2 separate regions of the Homo sapiens genome follow, and region 2 is linked to region 1. The links come from fine-mapping of genetic effects on gene expression. A gene starts in region 1. The other region holds a variant in brackets. All regions are shown on one strand. Distances are between the middles of the regions.

Evidence for each region.
Region 2: its variant is fine-mapped to the expression of TSEN2 in visceral fat (GTEx, PIP 0.99).

Annotation. Positions count from the first base shown.
Region 1 is chr3:12,480,528-12,488,864 of GRCh38, forward strand. TSEN2 (tRNA splicing endonuclease subunit 2) reads left to right here and starts at 3,953. Exons shown (of 12, transcript NM_025265.4): 1 at 3,953-4,353. RefSeq lists an enhancer at 3,877-4,296.
Region 2 is chr3:12,427,078-12,435,414 of GRCh38, forward strand. PPARG (peroxisome proliferator activated receptor gamma) reads left to right here. Exons shown (of 8, transcript NM_138711.6): 8 at 6,821-7,267. The coding sequence ends at 7,068. Among named protein-coding and RNA genes, the nearest start is that of TSEN2, 53 kb to the right of the region's middle. The variant A/G (reference allele first, on the strand shown) is at 4,469.

The DNA of each region.
Region 1 (8,337 bases):
GTTTTTTTTTTTTTTTTTTTTTTGAGACAGTATCACTCTGTCGCCCAGGCTGGAGTGTAGTGGCGCAATCTCCGCTCACTGTAACCTCTGCCTCCTGGGTTCGAGTGATTCTCCTGTCTCAGCTTCCCGAATAGCTGGGATTACAGGCGCATCACCATGCCCAGCTAATTTTTATATATTTTTTTTAGTAGAGACGGGGTTTTGCCATGTTGGCCAGGCTGGTCTTGAACTCCCACCCTCAGGTGATCAACCCACCTCGGCCTCCCAGAGTTCTGGGATTACAGGCATAAGTCACCGCGCCCGGCCTGTCATGTTTTGTTAATGCATTGCCCTCCTGTATCCAGCATGACAGATTAAAAGAGCATAAGCCCCGTAGATCCGTATCCTCATCTGGCCTTCACTACTTCCTAGCAATGACACCATGGGCATGTGCGGTAACCTTGGCTGCAGAAGAGAGGTAAGAACACCAATCTCACAGCCCTGTTATGAGAATTAAATAAGATCATGGATGCAAAAGTGGCTGGCACATAGTAAGTGCCCAATAAATTGTCACTAGGGTGGCCAGATAAAATGTGAGGCACCCAGATTAACTTGAATTTCAGATAAACTTTTTTCTTAAGTATATCCCAAATATTACTTGGAGGTTCTGGGCACATTTCACCGATAACTGTTCATTGTGTTAGATGTGCTAGTGATACTGGGGATATGTTGATATAGTCCATCCTCCCTACTCTTGGATTCTGTATTTACAAACTCACCTAGTTGCTAAAACTTATTGGTAACATCACAATCAATACTTCACTGTCACAGTCATCTGCAGATGTGTGCATGCACAGAATACCAAAAAATTTGAGTCACACAGTGTGCACATTCCCAGCTGCAGGTGAACAAGGAGACTCTGCCTTCTTGTTTCAGCTCTCATACCATAAATAAGTATGCTTTTTTGAGCTCTAGTTTGTGCCATGTTTTTCACATTTTTGTGCTTTTTGTTGGTGATTTAACTGTTTAAAATGGCCCCAAGTGGAGTGCTGAAGTGCTGTCTGGTGTTCCCCACCCAAGAAATGTGCCTTATTGGAGAGAATAGGTGTGTTAGATAAGCCTCCTTTAGGCAGGAGTTATAGTGCTGTTGGCTGCGAGTTCAGTGTTGATGAATCAACATATGTAAGGTGTCTTTAAACAGAAACACATGAAGTGAGGTTATATATTGACCAGTTGATGAAAATGCTGTGACCAGAGACTCACAGACACCTAACCTTGTATCTTGTATTTCTCCTGGAAACATGGTTCAGTATTTACTAATTCAGTGTTTGTGGCAACTTTATAGAACAGAATTACCTCAAATAATGAGAATGAACTACACAGTTGATATATGTGTGTGTGTGTGTGTGTGTCTGCGTATATATATATATATATATGTAGATGCAGATGTATTGTAATAAAATTAAGTCCTTATCTATTAGAGATACCTACTGAAATATCATGGATGAAGTTATATCATGTCTGGGATTGTTTTAAAATACTCCAGCAAGGAGATAAAAGTGTGTATATCGAGAATGCAAAAGAAATGAGATACCAAAGGTTGAAGGTTGTAGAAGCGATTTTTTATTTTTGAGACAGAGTTTTTACTCTTGTTGCCTAGGCTGGAGGGCAATGGTGCAATCCCGACTCACCACAACCTCCACCTCCCCGGTTCAAGCAATTCTCTTGCCTCAGCCTCCAGGGTAGCTGGGATTATAGGCATGCACCACCATGTCCAGCTAATTTTGTATTTTTAGTAGAGATGGGGTTTCTCCATGTTGGTCAGGCTGGTCTCGAACTCCCAACCTCAGGTGATCCACCCGCCTCAGCCTCCCAAAGTGCTGGGATTACAGGCATGAGCCACCGTGCCCGGCCAGAAGTGATGATTTATTGGACTGTTTTCTCTACTTTTGTGTTGTATGTTTGAAAATAACCATATCAAAGGGTTTAAAATGCACTTGAGAAAGTCTTGGGGAAAATTTCTTTCTTTTTTAAAATTTACAGATTTTTTTTCTTTTTTTAATTTCTTTTTTTATGTTTTTGGGAGGGGAATTTGAGATCCCATTATCAGCAAACCCCAAATCCTTCCACGAGCTGGGATGGGATTTAAGAGACCTGGCTCTAGTCTCAGCCCCACCTCAGACCTGCTCGGTTATCTCTGACAACTCACAGTGCCACTGGAACTGTTTTCTTATCAGTTAAATAAGGAAGTTTAACTGGACAACCTCTGAATCCCTTTCATTGTTAAAGCCCTCTAATTCTAAAACCAGTATTTCTTAAATTGGCATGTTCTGGTCGGATATTACAGCCTCTCTTCAGCTGTCTCTCCCCTGCCCAATCCATCCTGTTACCATATCCTGTGACTCTTGCCAATTTTCTCCCTTTCTTTTGCAACATTCTTACCACAAAGCTCTTTGATTTTGGTTTATCTAAAACCTGAACTCCCTAGCCTAGCAGTGAAGGTCCTTGCAGCAGAGGACCCACTGAATGCTGCGACATGATCTCACTCTACCAAGAGCAAGCCCACAGTGCAGTTCAAAAAGGGCCAGGCAGGATGCAGTGGCTCAAGCCTGTAATCCCAGCACTTTGGGAGGCCGAGGCGGGAGGATCGCTTGAGGTCAGGAGTTTGAGACCAGCCTGGCCAACGTGGTGAAACCCCGTTTCTACTAAAAATATAACAATCAGCCGGGCGTGGTGGCAGGCGCCTGTAATCCGAGCTACTCGGGAGGCTGAGGCAGGAGAATCACCTGAACCTGGGAGGCAGAGATTGCAGTGAGGTAAGTGAGCTGAGATGGTGCCACTGCATTCCAGCCTGGGCGACAGAGCCAGGCTCCGTCTCAAAAAATAAAAAGGGCCAGAAAAACAGGGACAACACATGCCATGCCAGACTACTGCAGAGCACAGAGGCAAGTCACCCAAGCAGGTCTGGGAAGGCAAGAAGTCTCCTGGAAGAGGTGATATTTGAGCTGAGACCTAAAGGCTGACCAGGAATTACTGCAGCTAACAGAGGGGAGGGAACATAGAGGCAACAGCATGCGTGAAGGAATGGAGGCAAGAACATTGGCAGAAGTCCAAAATTCAACATCCATCATCACATCTAGCACCATGAATCTCTCCAGCAGTATTTGCCACACTTCCTTGCCATCCTCCTTTGCCTCCTGCTTAGTCTGTGTGGTGGAACTCCTGTGATTCATATTTGGGAAAGTATATATTGGACTCCCCACAGGGCTCCTTTAAAATAACCAGGTCAGGAGAAACTTACACTTCCTATTGCACTCCAGTTTTGCTCATCTCCCGTAATTCTGATGGCCCATTTTTCAGTAAACTCAAGCTCAGAAAGGTTGTCAGTCATTCAAGCTCACGCAGCCAGTGAGGGGGGAAAATGGGGATGCAGAGCAGGTGGACCTGCCGCCTATTGTCCCTTAACTGCACAGGCAGTCTGGGCACACAGAGGCTTCTGGCCAGGTGTCTGCCAGAGAAAACGTCCTTGCAAGTTCCCCGCATGCTGCAGCGTACACAGGTGCGCTGCTGTGATCCTCTTTCTACATTGAGAAAGATGAGATCAGTTTCCTCAGGGCCATTTAATAAAGTCCTGTCGGTCGCCTCAAACATCCCATCCACCGAGGGCCGAAGATTCTAGGTCTCTCCCACCTCCCACGTGACTATGTGACATTTGACGGGTAACTGCATCTCATCTGTAAAATGCGTCTTGCAGGATCGTTCTGGCTTCCGTACAATCCTGCAGAGAGCAGCAAAGCGCGCACGCAGCCTCCGCCTCATACTCCGCAGTGGCAGAGCTGGCGCACAGAACACCCGCCAGCCGGCCGTGCGCAGGCGCACTCCGCCAAGTCCCGACGGGAGCTCTGCGGCTGCGCACTCGGCTGGCTTTGCGGCCGCACTGCTTGACGGCAGCGGTGTCCGCCCCACGGCCGGCGTTGCCGGGGTAACGGCGAGCGCGTGGGGCCAAGAAAGGTAAGGGCCCTGGGCGAGGAAAGCGCGGCCCTTTCCGAGTTTGGTGTTTTGCAGCGAAAGGAAATCTCGCTCTTCCGAAAGTCCTCCAGGGCGAGAGAGGAAAGGGCCTAGGTACTGTGCTGGGGTCGCACAGCCGGCCGAGACAGTGCCGGGACGGGGAGCCAGGCTTCCGAGTGCGCCCGGTCACTGACTCCTCCGCGCTTTCCTCGTGCGCCTGCAGCCCTTGGTTCTTGGAAACGCCGGCGCCTTGTTCAGGGCTGGTGGGGCTGGGGCGCAAGGTGCAGCTGACAATGCCCGAGAGGAGCCGCAGCCTCTGGTGGAGTTCGGTCGGGTGTGGGGGTAGTCAAGGAAAGAAGCAAAGGGGTAAGACAGGGAGTTAGGAATTGGCGGGGCCCCTAACGCTGTTGGGGTGCGCAGTTTATTTTATTTGCAGCTGTCGTCTGGTGAGCGCTTTCCACGTGGTAGGCCCCGAACGAAACGCCTTCTGCAAAATTATGCATTTAATCCTGACAACAACTTTCAAAGGCTGGTCATCTGTTTATATGGCTTATTCTCAGGTTCTAACTTGAAAGCTCCCCAGAGGCAGGATTGTTTACCTTGTGCCTTTCATCCTTGCCTCCCTAAGCCCAGGAGGTGCGCAGATGGAGCTTGAAGCGTGTTTTGGTTGGGAGAAGGTGAGATTTGCTGGGTAGGAGGTTTTTTAACCAGGTTTGTTTGGCACCTAGTCCAGGAAGGTTGGAAAATTAAATGGAGCCACCTCTCCCTTTTTTGTTTTTCTAATAGACATTTACCATCACCTAAGAGGTGTTAGCCTGTGTGCTCGAGGGAAGAATAAGAAACAGACTCTGCTTTTAATAGAAAGTAAGAATATGCAGCTCTGGAGTCAGGTTGCGCAGGTTGGGGAAATAAGAAGTAAAGATTTCTCAGGGGTGCGCCCGGCCCCTCCGAGTCACTTTCCACATCTGTACAATGGAAATAAAAATAGTCTTTACCTCCGGGGGCTACTGGGATTAAGTGAATTTGAATAGACCTTGCTGTTACCAGTGGTTAGCTATATGTTAAAATCAGCTGGGTCCACCCAGGAAATTCTGATGTAATTGATTGCAGGTGAGGCCTGGGCATGAGGAGTTAAGGGTAGGTAAGCTTGAGGGCCACTGTGTGATGTACCACTCCCAGGTTTAATTTTCTTAATCTGCATTTTTCAATCATCATTCTAAATAACCTGCAGTGACTCCAATTCCAAACCAACCTTTGCATCCCAAACCTCTTGACAACTGACCCAGTCTTTCCTATATGTTTTTGTGCACCTCAGGCACCGCTCTTCTTTCATATCTGTGGAATGAGGATAGTACAGTCAGCTCTCGCTATCAGGTTCCGAATCTGTGGATTCAACCAATGTTGCATCAAAAATATTTGGAAAAAGAAATTTAAAAATATATATATATAACAATTATTTAGTATTTACATTGTATTAGGTATTCTAAGTAATCTAGAGAAGACTTAAAGTAGATGGGAGGATGGGCATAAGTTACATGCAAATACTACATTTTATTTAAGGGACTTGAGCTGCGGATTTTGGTAGGGGGTGAGTCCTGGAACCAGTCCTTCTGTGGATACCAAGGGATGACTATAGTACCCACATGTGCAGCACATGCAGTGAGTGCCTCTGGCATCTGGTACCTACCTATGACAGTTTCCTCTTCTTATTTTACTCACATCCCACCTCTTACAGCATGCTGTTCTGCCGCGACACTAAAGAACCTTCTTGAATATCCATTGCAGATATGGGGAATGGTAAATGCAGTCTTTTCTCCTCTGCTTTGCCTTTCGAGTTCAGCACAGGAGGACTCTTCCATGAAACTAGAGATCATCTGATTTGTCCTCTTGAATTTTTCCCCCTGGGGAAGTGAGCTCTACCTTCCCTGAGGGTTTCTTTCTATCTTTTCTAGAAGCTTCACGCTGGTATCTGTGAAGTCATTCTTGCAGGACATGGCCTGGGGAATGTCTTTACTTCTGAATTTTTTAAAATAGCTTTATTGAGATACCATATAATTCTGTAAAAGTCACCCTTCTGAAATGTACGAGTCAGTGGTCTTCGTATTCGCGGAGTTATGTAACCATTACCATCACTACAATCTAATTTTAAAACATTTTCGTCACCCTCCAAAATAAACCTCCTGTCTTATTAGCAGTCGCCCCCCCATTTCCCACTTTTCCCTGTCTCTGGCAACTGGTAATCTGTCTCTATGGATTTGTCTATTCCGGAAACTTTATCTTAATTGTCTCGTGGTCTTTTGTGTCTGACTTCTTTTAGCATAATGCTTTCAGGTGTTGAAGAATGTATCCGAACTTCATTCCTTTTCTATGGCTAAGTATTTGATTATATGGATAGACCACATTTTGTTGATCTGGTCAACTATTGATGGACATTTGGATGGCTTCCACTTTGATGCTATTATGAATAATACTGTTGTGAACATTCACATACAAATTTTTCCATGAACATATGTTTTCATTTCTCTTAGGTCTATACCTAGGGGTGGAGTTGCTGGATCATGTCGTAACTATGTGTTTGACATTTTGAGGAACTGCCAGACTCCTCCAGTCCTGTTCGATTTGAAGATGAAACTGGGCTTAGAGAAAGTGGGTTGTGCAAGGTCACACAATAATAATGGCGGCTTTGCATGTCTGGAAGGCCTACTGCGAGCCAAATTCCTGAGGGGTGTGCAGCCACATGAGCAAGAGTAACACAAGAACTTGGATTATGAGGGGTGTTTTGTCGCAGGGACCCTTCCATCCCACACACCTGGGTTGGAGTACAGAGTTCTTTCGATCAAGTGTCACAGCTAAATCTTGCCTTTTTTAGATGTGACAGCAGTCTGAGAGGGAAAAACGCTGAACAAATGAGGCAGACTAAAATACAACTCTTATTTGTTGAGAGAATTTATTAGAACTTCTTGAAGGTGGCCATTAAATCTTTTTTCATTTTTTTAAAATTCCGAATGTAATGTATATAAGTCAGCTGCTGAGCAGAGGTTATAAAAGTGAAAAATCCCATAAAAGTCCAAACCATTCCTGGAAGTCTTTCAAAAAGTGCCTTACTAGAGACCAACATCCTGCCCCCAAAAAGCAGTGTTTATTTTCAGTTTTAGAATAAATTATTGTCTCTCCAATTGAGTACTAAATGTGATAATTTAGTACTTGGGCTGAGGGATAAGTCAGCAAGCAAGGTAAAGCCTAGTCTAAATATGCTCTTAAGAAAATCTCTTAGGTTTCCTGTGAGCATGCAGTAGACGTGGTTTTGTTATAAACACTATACAGCAAGATGCATGCATAAATATAAAATGTACAAAGTAATGCTCAGTATGTAATTCCTTCAAGGAACCTTATTTAGAAATTAATCTAGCATGTTGCTGCTTAGAACAATGGCAATTCTAGGAAGGTTCCAACTTCCCGATTCTTCTTTTTCATGGTTATCTTTGTAATTGATGTATCATTTCCTCTAACTCCTCTTTAGTCTGTGTTTTTCTGTGTCCTCATATAATTCCTCAGCTTCTTCCTTGAGAAGTTGGATACTGATATCATCACACGTTGGATAAGCCTTTTCTTAATGGTCATGACACTCTTAAAGCCACTCACCTTCCCCTCCCTCAGTTTTGGCCACCTTCTTGACTGTTTCAGGCTTGATGGCATCCCTTGCCAATGGGATGCAAGTACTGAGTGCAGGAGCCACCTAAGTAATTAGTCTTATTTTTTCCCTTGTGAGGATTCGGAGTCATGTAGGTTAAACGTGTGTATGATTTGGCCGCACTGTATCTTCAAGCACCAGGTAAGCTCTCAGTTGAAATCAAGTCTAGACCTAGTACTGGGGGAGCAGCAGATTCAAGTTTCCCATCTCATTCCAGGACAGCTGCTCCTCGAGTGGAATGTCTTGCACCATTTACATTGTTTTCCCATGTATATGGTTACGTTTTCCTAGGTTAAGTGCATCTACTGTATCTCTGTGTCTGCATCACACAATATGTTCACATTTACTTCCCTCCTTTAGACATTAGTGGATAACAGCCAGTTCCGTTAGCTCCAACCTGCTTTCTGTGCTTCCAGCTATGTTATATACTTGTTTTGTCTCCTTGGATCCAATGTATGGCCCCAGAGGGACACGTACTGGCTTTGGCTTTCTGTTCTCCCTCATGGTGCTGGGTGCACAGTGGGTAATTCCGTTACTGCTCAATAACCCTTCACCGTCTGATTTTGAGAAAGAGTCATCAGACAAAAGTAGATAGACCCTGCCTGTGCTTTCAGCAGAATCTAGAGAGAGGGCATGGGCTTGGGAGTTCAACAGACCTG
Region 2 (8,337 bases), 53 kb before region 1:
CCTGCACTAGACCAAGCTCCGATTCAAATTTAAATATTAAGAGGACACATGTATAACTTTGCTGAATAATTTTTTCCTATCGGTAGGATGGTGGGAAGGAATTGCTATAGGCCACACCATGATACTTTGCTGAATTGGATCAGAAAAGTACCCTCAAATTCCCAGCATCATTTCTTCAAGGAAGTAGTGAATTGGGGCACCGTGGGTTTTTTGTTTTGTTATTGTTCTTAAACCACCTTGCCTATGTGCACTCAACTACAGGAACGAGAACTTGCCTGAAACCCCAAACGTGTCTGCATCAGGCATTATTTTTCTTGAGCTCCTGAATTTCTGCTCTAACCAAGAACAACTCAAAAACCTTCAATTTCATAACTGTTGATATGCCACCCACTCCTACTTACACTCCTGACCCCAACCCCATGGAAACTGCCTTTATTCGAACAAACACAAGAATTATAATATGTTCTAAAGTTCCTCTACCTATTTCATTCTCACCATACGCTTATGAAAGAAATGTCATTGTCTTGAAAACTAAGCCTAAACCCAGAAAGATTAGATGATTTGTCCACAGGCACACAGAAACTAAGTGGAAGAGAAACAGGACTCAAGTCTTCAGTTTCCCAATCCACTGCCTCCTAGAACATGCCTGTGAACTGAGGGAGCAGTGCAATAAAGGAAACTTGAGAGGAAGCGCAAAAGGAACTTAAATTGCAAAGTACTGGGTTCCCTAAGTAGCCCTGCCTCCCCTCCAGTTTTCAGCCCACACCTGAACTAAGGTCTTTCATTGTCTGTGGATCAATTTACAGCTGCCCTGCAATCACATTTGTTTTGTTTGTTTGTTTGTTTTGGTTTTGAACGCCCTAGGGACAGTCGGTTTCAGATTAGTCTCTATCAGAGAGCCAATAGGGAAAGATGCAGAAAGCCAGGAGAGCAGCTCCTAGAATAGAGACAAAACCACCTGCATTTTTTCTGCCTCTTCTTCAGGAGACTCCACTGTGGTCATCTGGTTCCCTAATTGAGACACCTCCTGAGAAAATCTGTGCTAGGGAAACACCCAGCCCAGGTGGGCAGATCTCAAGAGGACCAGAACGTTTGAATCTGCTTCAGATAAACCCTCCACTTAACAGTACCAGATCTGGACGAGATGGAAGCTTTGTAGATTTGCCCATAATCCACAGTGCTCTGTAATCAATTCCAGGACCGTGTGGATGGAGACCGGAAAGGTTTCTTTCCCAATTCTTCACAGCCTGGGGAGTAGGGAACTAGTAATTGACTCCAGCCTCCTCGAGTGCTAAGTCCTGGAGTCTGAGTCACACACACTTCCCAAAAGGGCCTTCTAAGCAGCCTACCCCAGCAGAGAGGACCCTTGGCCCTGGCCCTACTCCAGACTCAACTGTAACCTCAGCAAGGTGCAGGGAGAGGATCTCAGGTGGGCCTCCTGGCAACAGTGCCTTTTCAGGCACTAGGCTGTTGGGAATGGAGAGAGAAGAGAAAGGCCCTGGCACTGTCTGGGTATTTGGATGGATTTCTGTGGCACAACTGTGGCACCTGGCTTAGCTCAGTAAAGGACTGAGTGTGCGTGGAGCAGAAAGGGGAAAGAGACTAGTGGGGAGCTGGTGACCAGTTGGAGGGTGGAGGGTAGGGAACAACCCTGGCAGATCCATTTTGCCCTTGACTAGAGCTTAAAGACCAAAGGAAGCGTTCTTGTTTTTAAGTAAGTCAGGTGTTCTAAGTTTAATGTTAATATGCTTTTTCAATTAGATGTTTGAGTATATTTCCCCAGTTGAATTATGTAGAGGGAATTACAAATGAGAATACATCTTACAATTTTTGAATTAGAATCTTTGAGATTATCTATTTAGTCCGGTCTGTTTTGTTTAGACAAGAAAATTGAGCCCATTGATCTTAATCAGTTTGCCCAAGGTCACAGAGCTGGTGAGTGAAAGCTTTAGATGTAGAATATGCAACTTTTCTCTGCTGCCCTCCTTCCCTAAACCATCTTGCCTTAACGGAGGCTCAGTCAGGGGGACAATGGGACTGATCTGTAAATGATCTAACTTGTCATTGCAGAAAATATACTTACTCCGTGGCCACAAAATTTCAGCCCTTCAGCCAAGCTTCATCCATCACATCATAAAGAATAACTTGCCAAAGAGGGGTTTGAAAATCCAAACCAGATCCCTCTCCACTCCTAGAGAGGCCAGTTCCATGACACTGCACCGGAGCCAAGTGTTTCCAGCAAGCCCTGATCAGTTGCATGTTAGTCCTTGTTTGTATGATAAACGGGACCTAGTAGATTAACATCATCTCCTCAGCCCAAGGGCTGACCCCAGTGGTGCTGCTCAAGAGGAAGGAGGAGGCTGGGAGCGGTGGCTCCCGCTTGTCATCCCAGCACTTTGAGGGGCTGAGGAGGGCAAATCTCTTGAGCCCAGCATTCAAGAGCAGCCTGGAAAATGTAGAGATTCTGTCTCTACCAAAAAAAAAAAAAAAAAAAAAGAAGCAGGTGGAGGAAGGAGGAGCTGCAGAAAGGCTCCGGGAGCCAGTGTCTAGTAAGCAGAGGCCTAGCCCAGGCTGAGTGGTCCCAGCCCAGGAGGGCCTCTCTCGGCACCTGTCTTTAGATGCACGTCTGCCTCTGGCCTTTGAGATGCACACATTCATCAAGCAGGAGGATCTGTAGTCATTAAACCAAGGTGCCAGTCTGGGGCCCAGCCTTCAATGAAGCATCAGTGGCTTTTTCATTCCCATAGAGCAACTGCGAGGAAGACCCCATGCTCCCAGGGGCCCAATTCTCCAGGCCAGGACCAGATCATTTGTTCCTTCTCAGAATCTGAGATCTTTTGCTGATGGTTCCAAAATTGAATGCTGAAATCTAAAAAGAAAATTATACTTACTCTGGTCAATGGGATATGTTGGAGACCTGAGAGTGAAAAAATCAAACTGAAGACCAGTTTCCTTCTTTAATGGAAGAAAAGTAAGAAAGTTAACTTAGAAGAATATTTAGAGTTCTGAAAATCCCACTCTGAGACCACTCTGCCATCTCACATTGTTCTCTTGAGCCTTATCTCAATGGATAAAGGTCACTAGAGTTTATTAGACACAGGAAAACATCGTTTACAGACTTCTTCATTGTGTAGGGATTCTGCCTTCAGGCCTGTTCACCAGCCAGGAGAATTGTGCTTTTTGATCCAGGGCTCTTGGCCAGAACAGCCTTCTCGCTCATTAACTCAGTCAACCAAATGCTTCCTGTGTTTCCACTGGTGGTTCAGAACGTAGTCTCTGCCCTCTGATACCTCACGGTCTAACGGGGGAGAAACAAGAAAGTCAGAACTTACAATACAAGATAATAAGGAATAAGAGCAGAGCCTTTGGAACCAGACAGACTTAGATCCAAATGTCAGCTCTGCATTTACTAGCAAGTGGTCTATCTTGGTAAGATGCAACTCTTTTCTCTAAGTCTTAATTTCTCCCTCTGTAAAGTATGACCTCATGGGGTTATTGTGAAGATTAAATGGCATATCGTATATAAGGCCCTTGGCACGATCTTTGGAAAATAATAACCATTCAGTGAATGTAATCTACTAGTATAGTAGCGATTGAGGTGTTTATAGGGTGCTATGAGGGCCCAGAGAAAGGAGATGAGATGAACAGGAGAGAGGAAGGGATACTGTTGAGGAAGGATTTCAGGATGGAATCCCACCACAGGCTGTATTTTGAAGAAATGGTTGAAGTCAATAAGAAGAGTGAAGGGAAGGTGAGAATGTTTCAGGCAGGAAGAATAAAATCTGAATAAGTGCAGAGTCCTGACAGAACATAGGGTGTTTGAGGAACTTGGTATGGAAATAGATTAATATGGCTTAACATGGAGCAAAATGAAACAGAACTGAGACTAGAGGATGACCAGGACCAGGTCATGAAGGACATTAAAGGTGGGTAAAACTCATACCATGAAGGAGAGAAGAGTTACAGTTTTTAAAAGAAAATAAATAGCCTTCAGGAGCTCAAATTTGAAATCAATACGAGATAGATGATCAAGTGAATGTTCTGTCTTCTTGATGAGCCTGACTGAGAAAACCTTATAATCTAACCCAAGGCAACAAACTGAGAAATTAGAAAATAAAACTTAGAGATTAGAAAACAAAAACTGAAACCCAAACTTTTTACTTGGAAATTTAAAAACATGCTTCTATATAACTCTTAGGTTAAAAATGAAATCAAAATTGTAAGACAAGCTGTTTAGAAAAGAACTATGAGAGTACCGTTTATCAAAGCCCATGGGATGAAACCAAAGTGGCACTAAGAAGAAAATGTGGAGGCTTCAATGCATTTATTAGAATACAAAGAATACCAAATCAAATGAATTAAGCATTCAACTCAAGAAAACTAGAAAAAGAGAAGAAAGTAAACCTAAAGAAAGTTTTAAAAAGGAATTCAATAAATTAAAAACAAAACACACAATTTTTAAAAACAG[A/G]CTTGATTAATAAAACCAAAAGCTATGTCTTTTTTAAAAAAGCAAAAAATAGATAAACCTTTGACAAATCAGATTTTTTTAATGAGAGAATGCACAAATAAAGAGCTCTAAGAGCTGGGCATGGTGACTCATGCCTATATTCCCAGCACTTTGGGAGGCTGAGGCAGGAGGATTGGTTGAGGCCAGGAGTTTAAGACCAGCCTGGGCTACGTAGCAAGACCCCACCTCTACAAAAAATTTCGAAATTAGTTGGGTGTGGCGGCTCATGCCTATAGTCCCAGCTACTTGGGAGGCTAAAGCAGGAGGATCACCTGAACCCAGGAGTTGGAGGCTGCAGTGAGCCATGATCATGCCACTGCACTGGGCAACAGATTAAGACTCTGTCACAAAAAAAAAAGCGTTAAGTTAAGGAGCGTGAATAAAAATAATACATTTCATATTCTAAGACAATATCATCTACAACTTTATTCCAATATAAATTACTAAAACTTTACCATATAAGTAGTAGAAAGCCTGAATAGATAAAAGCTATGGAAGAAAAATTAAAGATAGTGATAGATTTATCACCAAGCTCAGATGGTTCTGCAAACAAATTCTAAGAAACCGTCAGGGAACAGATCATTACTGCGTTGACACAGAAGGCAAACCTCTCAACTTGGTGTATAAGGCTAGTTAACATTGTTACTAAAACAGGCAAAGAATGGCCCCCAAAATAACTCTAAACCAGTATCACCTACAAATACAAAAACTCTATATAAAATATTAGCAAGTGAGTACAAGAGTATAAGGAACTCTATTAATGTAATTCACTGTGCTAGGTTAAGATAAAACCATAACTCTTCAGATATCATAGCTCTTTAGATAGAAAAATGTAAAAGTATTTGATAAAAATTCAACAACATTCCTGACTAAAACAAATTAAAATTGTAAAACCCCTGGAAAGCCAGGAGTAAAACATGTTCTCCATAATCTATAGCAAACATCATAGTTGCTGATAAACCATTAGAAGCATTTCCTTCAAAGTTAGGAATAAAACAAGAATTGCTACTATTGCTACTATTATTTAATCCCATATTGGAGGTTTTAGCCAACACACTATGGCAAGAAGAGGAAATGAGAAAGGTTAATGCTGCAAAAGAAGAAATAAATAAAGCTACCATTGCTGATATAATTATCTATCCAAAAAAAGTAGAAATCCATGATTAAAAGCTATTTGAACTGATAAAAGTTCAGAAAATTGGAATTGTTTCAATATACTAAAATCAATTAGTTTTCTGCACATCAGTGGGGATATATTAGATGTAATGAAAATGAAGGGTCCATTCACAATAGAAGCTATAAAGTATTTGAGAATAAATCTAACAAGATCTACATAAAGAAAAAAGTAAACTGCTTAAAAGTAATTTAAGTTCACCATTTGCAAATTGAACTAAAGAAAAATCTAAAGAAGAACTAGTGAAAATTGCTTGCAATCTTACCACTGAAAAGAAACCTCTGTTAAAATGTATCAGTATTTTAAAACTGTGTTTTGTCCTTTGGAAATATGCCATATTAAGCAAACATAGCATAAGCAAATTAAGCAAAAAGACAAACCTTTTTTTAAAAGCATATTTGTGAAAAAAGCATATTTGAAGCTATGATAAGAAACTGAGTAGAAGCTATAAAACGTAGATTCATCAGGAAGGAGCAGAAGTTGAAAAGGAGATTTCTGGCTGGGCACAGTGGCTCATGCCTGTAATCCCAGCACTTTGGGAGGCCAAGGCGGGTGGATCACTTGAGGTCAGGAGTTTGAGACAAGCCTGGCCAACATGGTGAAACCCTATCTCTACTAAAAATACAAAAATTAGAAAGGCGTGGTGGTGAGCACCTATCATCCCAGCTACTCAGGAGGCTGAGGCAGGAGAATAGCTTGATCCCGGGAGGCATAGGTTGTAGTGAGCCGACGTCATGCCACTGCACTCCAGCCTGGATGACAGAGCAAGACTCCATCTCAAAAAAAAAAAAAAAGAAAAGAAAAGAAAAGGAGATTTCTGAGTAGAAACACGTTAGCAGAGGAAACTTCATTTGGGGAACAGGATTGTTTTGATGCCATGCTCCCTCAGCTGACCACACAGATTACATCCTGGCCAGAAAAAGGCCCTGCAAAGAGCTCTGATCATTTTGGTTCTGATTCCATCCTTAGTTCTTACCCATTATCTGCTTACCCTTCCTCCCCACCTATTTAAGATACAAAGCAAAACAAACCAAAAATACAGATGAGTTGCTTGGTAGAGCTGCCTAGGCCTCCAAGGCGGGGCCCAGAGGATTTTTTGACTGAACCCCCTGTTGTGTTTTCCATATGTGCTTCCCCAGACCGCCCAGGTTTGCTGAATGTGAAGCCCATTGAAGACATTCAAGACAACCTGCTACAAGCCCTGGAGCTCCAGCTGAAGCTGAACCACCCTGAGTCCTCACAGCTGTTTGCCAAGCTGCTCCAGAAAATGACAGACCTCAGACAGATTGTCACGGAACACGTGCAGCTACTGCAGGTGATCAAGAAGACGGAGACAGACATGAGTCTTCACCCGCTCCTGCAGGAGATCTACAAGGACTTGTACTAGCAGAGAGTCCTGAGCCACTGCCAACATTTCCCTTCTTCCAGTTGCACTATTCTGAGGGAAAATCTGACACCTAAGAAATTTACTGTGAAAAAGCATTTTAAAAAGAAAAGGTTTTAGAATATGATCTATTTTATGCATATTGTTTATAAAGACACATTTACAATTTACTTTTAATATTAAAAATTACCATATTATGAAATTGCTGATAGTATTTGAAGACTGAGTCTTGTGTGTTTCCCACCCTAGCCCCCAGGCTTTCTTTTTTACCCCTTTTCCTTCTCCCCTCCCTCCCTCCATCCCTCTCACTCTTCCTCCCTCCCTTCCCTCCTTTCCTTCTTCCTTTATTTTTCTTTTCTTTCTTAGACATTTTAAAATATGTGAGTGGAACTGCTGATACACTTTCATTCTCAGTAAATTAATTTTTTACTCAATTTACAACTTTTCGGAACTCTGCATCTGCTTTAACAATCAGAACTAAGAAGGGAAGGGGAACTTCAGAATCAGAAACTGCTCAGAGCATGTGTTTTGTAGCCTGGATGTGCTGATATGCAGCATATCCCTGGGATTACCCAGAATTCAGTCTTCTTCCACAATCCTAACCGAGATTTTCACGCACCACCAGCAGCCTACTCGTATACTACCTACTAATCAATGCCACTGCGCACCCACAGAGCCAGTGGCCAGCAACTGAGCACTGCTAGAAACTCTGGGGAACACAGAACTTTTTTAAGATTTGGTATCTGCGCCAGGCATGGTGTCTCAAGCCTTTAATCCACGCACGTTAGGAGGCCAAGGTGGATGGATCGATTGAGCTGGTCTCTTGTTCGAGACCCTGTCTCCACAACAGTTTTAAATATTAGCCATGTGTGGTGGCACACACCTGTAGTCCCAGCTACTCGCAGGCTGAGGCGGGAGGATTGCTTGAGCCTGGGAGTTGAGGCTGCAGTGAGCTGTGATGATGCCACTGTATTCCAGCCTGGGCCACAGAGTGAGACCCTGTCTCTAAAAAAAGATAAAAAAGATTTGACACCTGCCAAAAAGAATTTACCGATTATAAACTGAGGAGAAAAGATTAATCTTTTTTCATACAGATTCAAATACGCAGATGAAATCACATGCCAGGTGAATGGTAAGAGTTTGTAGGAAGTAAGATGAGTGAAGATTGGAATCCCAGAGACTGAATCTGTGGATTTGCTGAAGAGGGCCTCAGGGAAGTGTTAGACTGGAATAGGTAGAGAGGAGGAGAAAAGACATTCCAGAGAAGCAAAA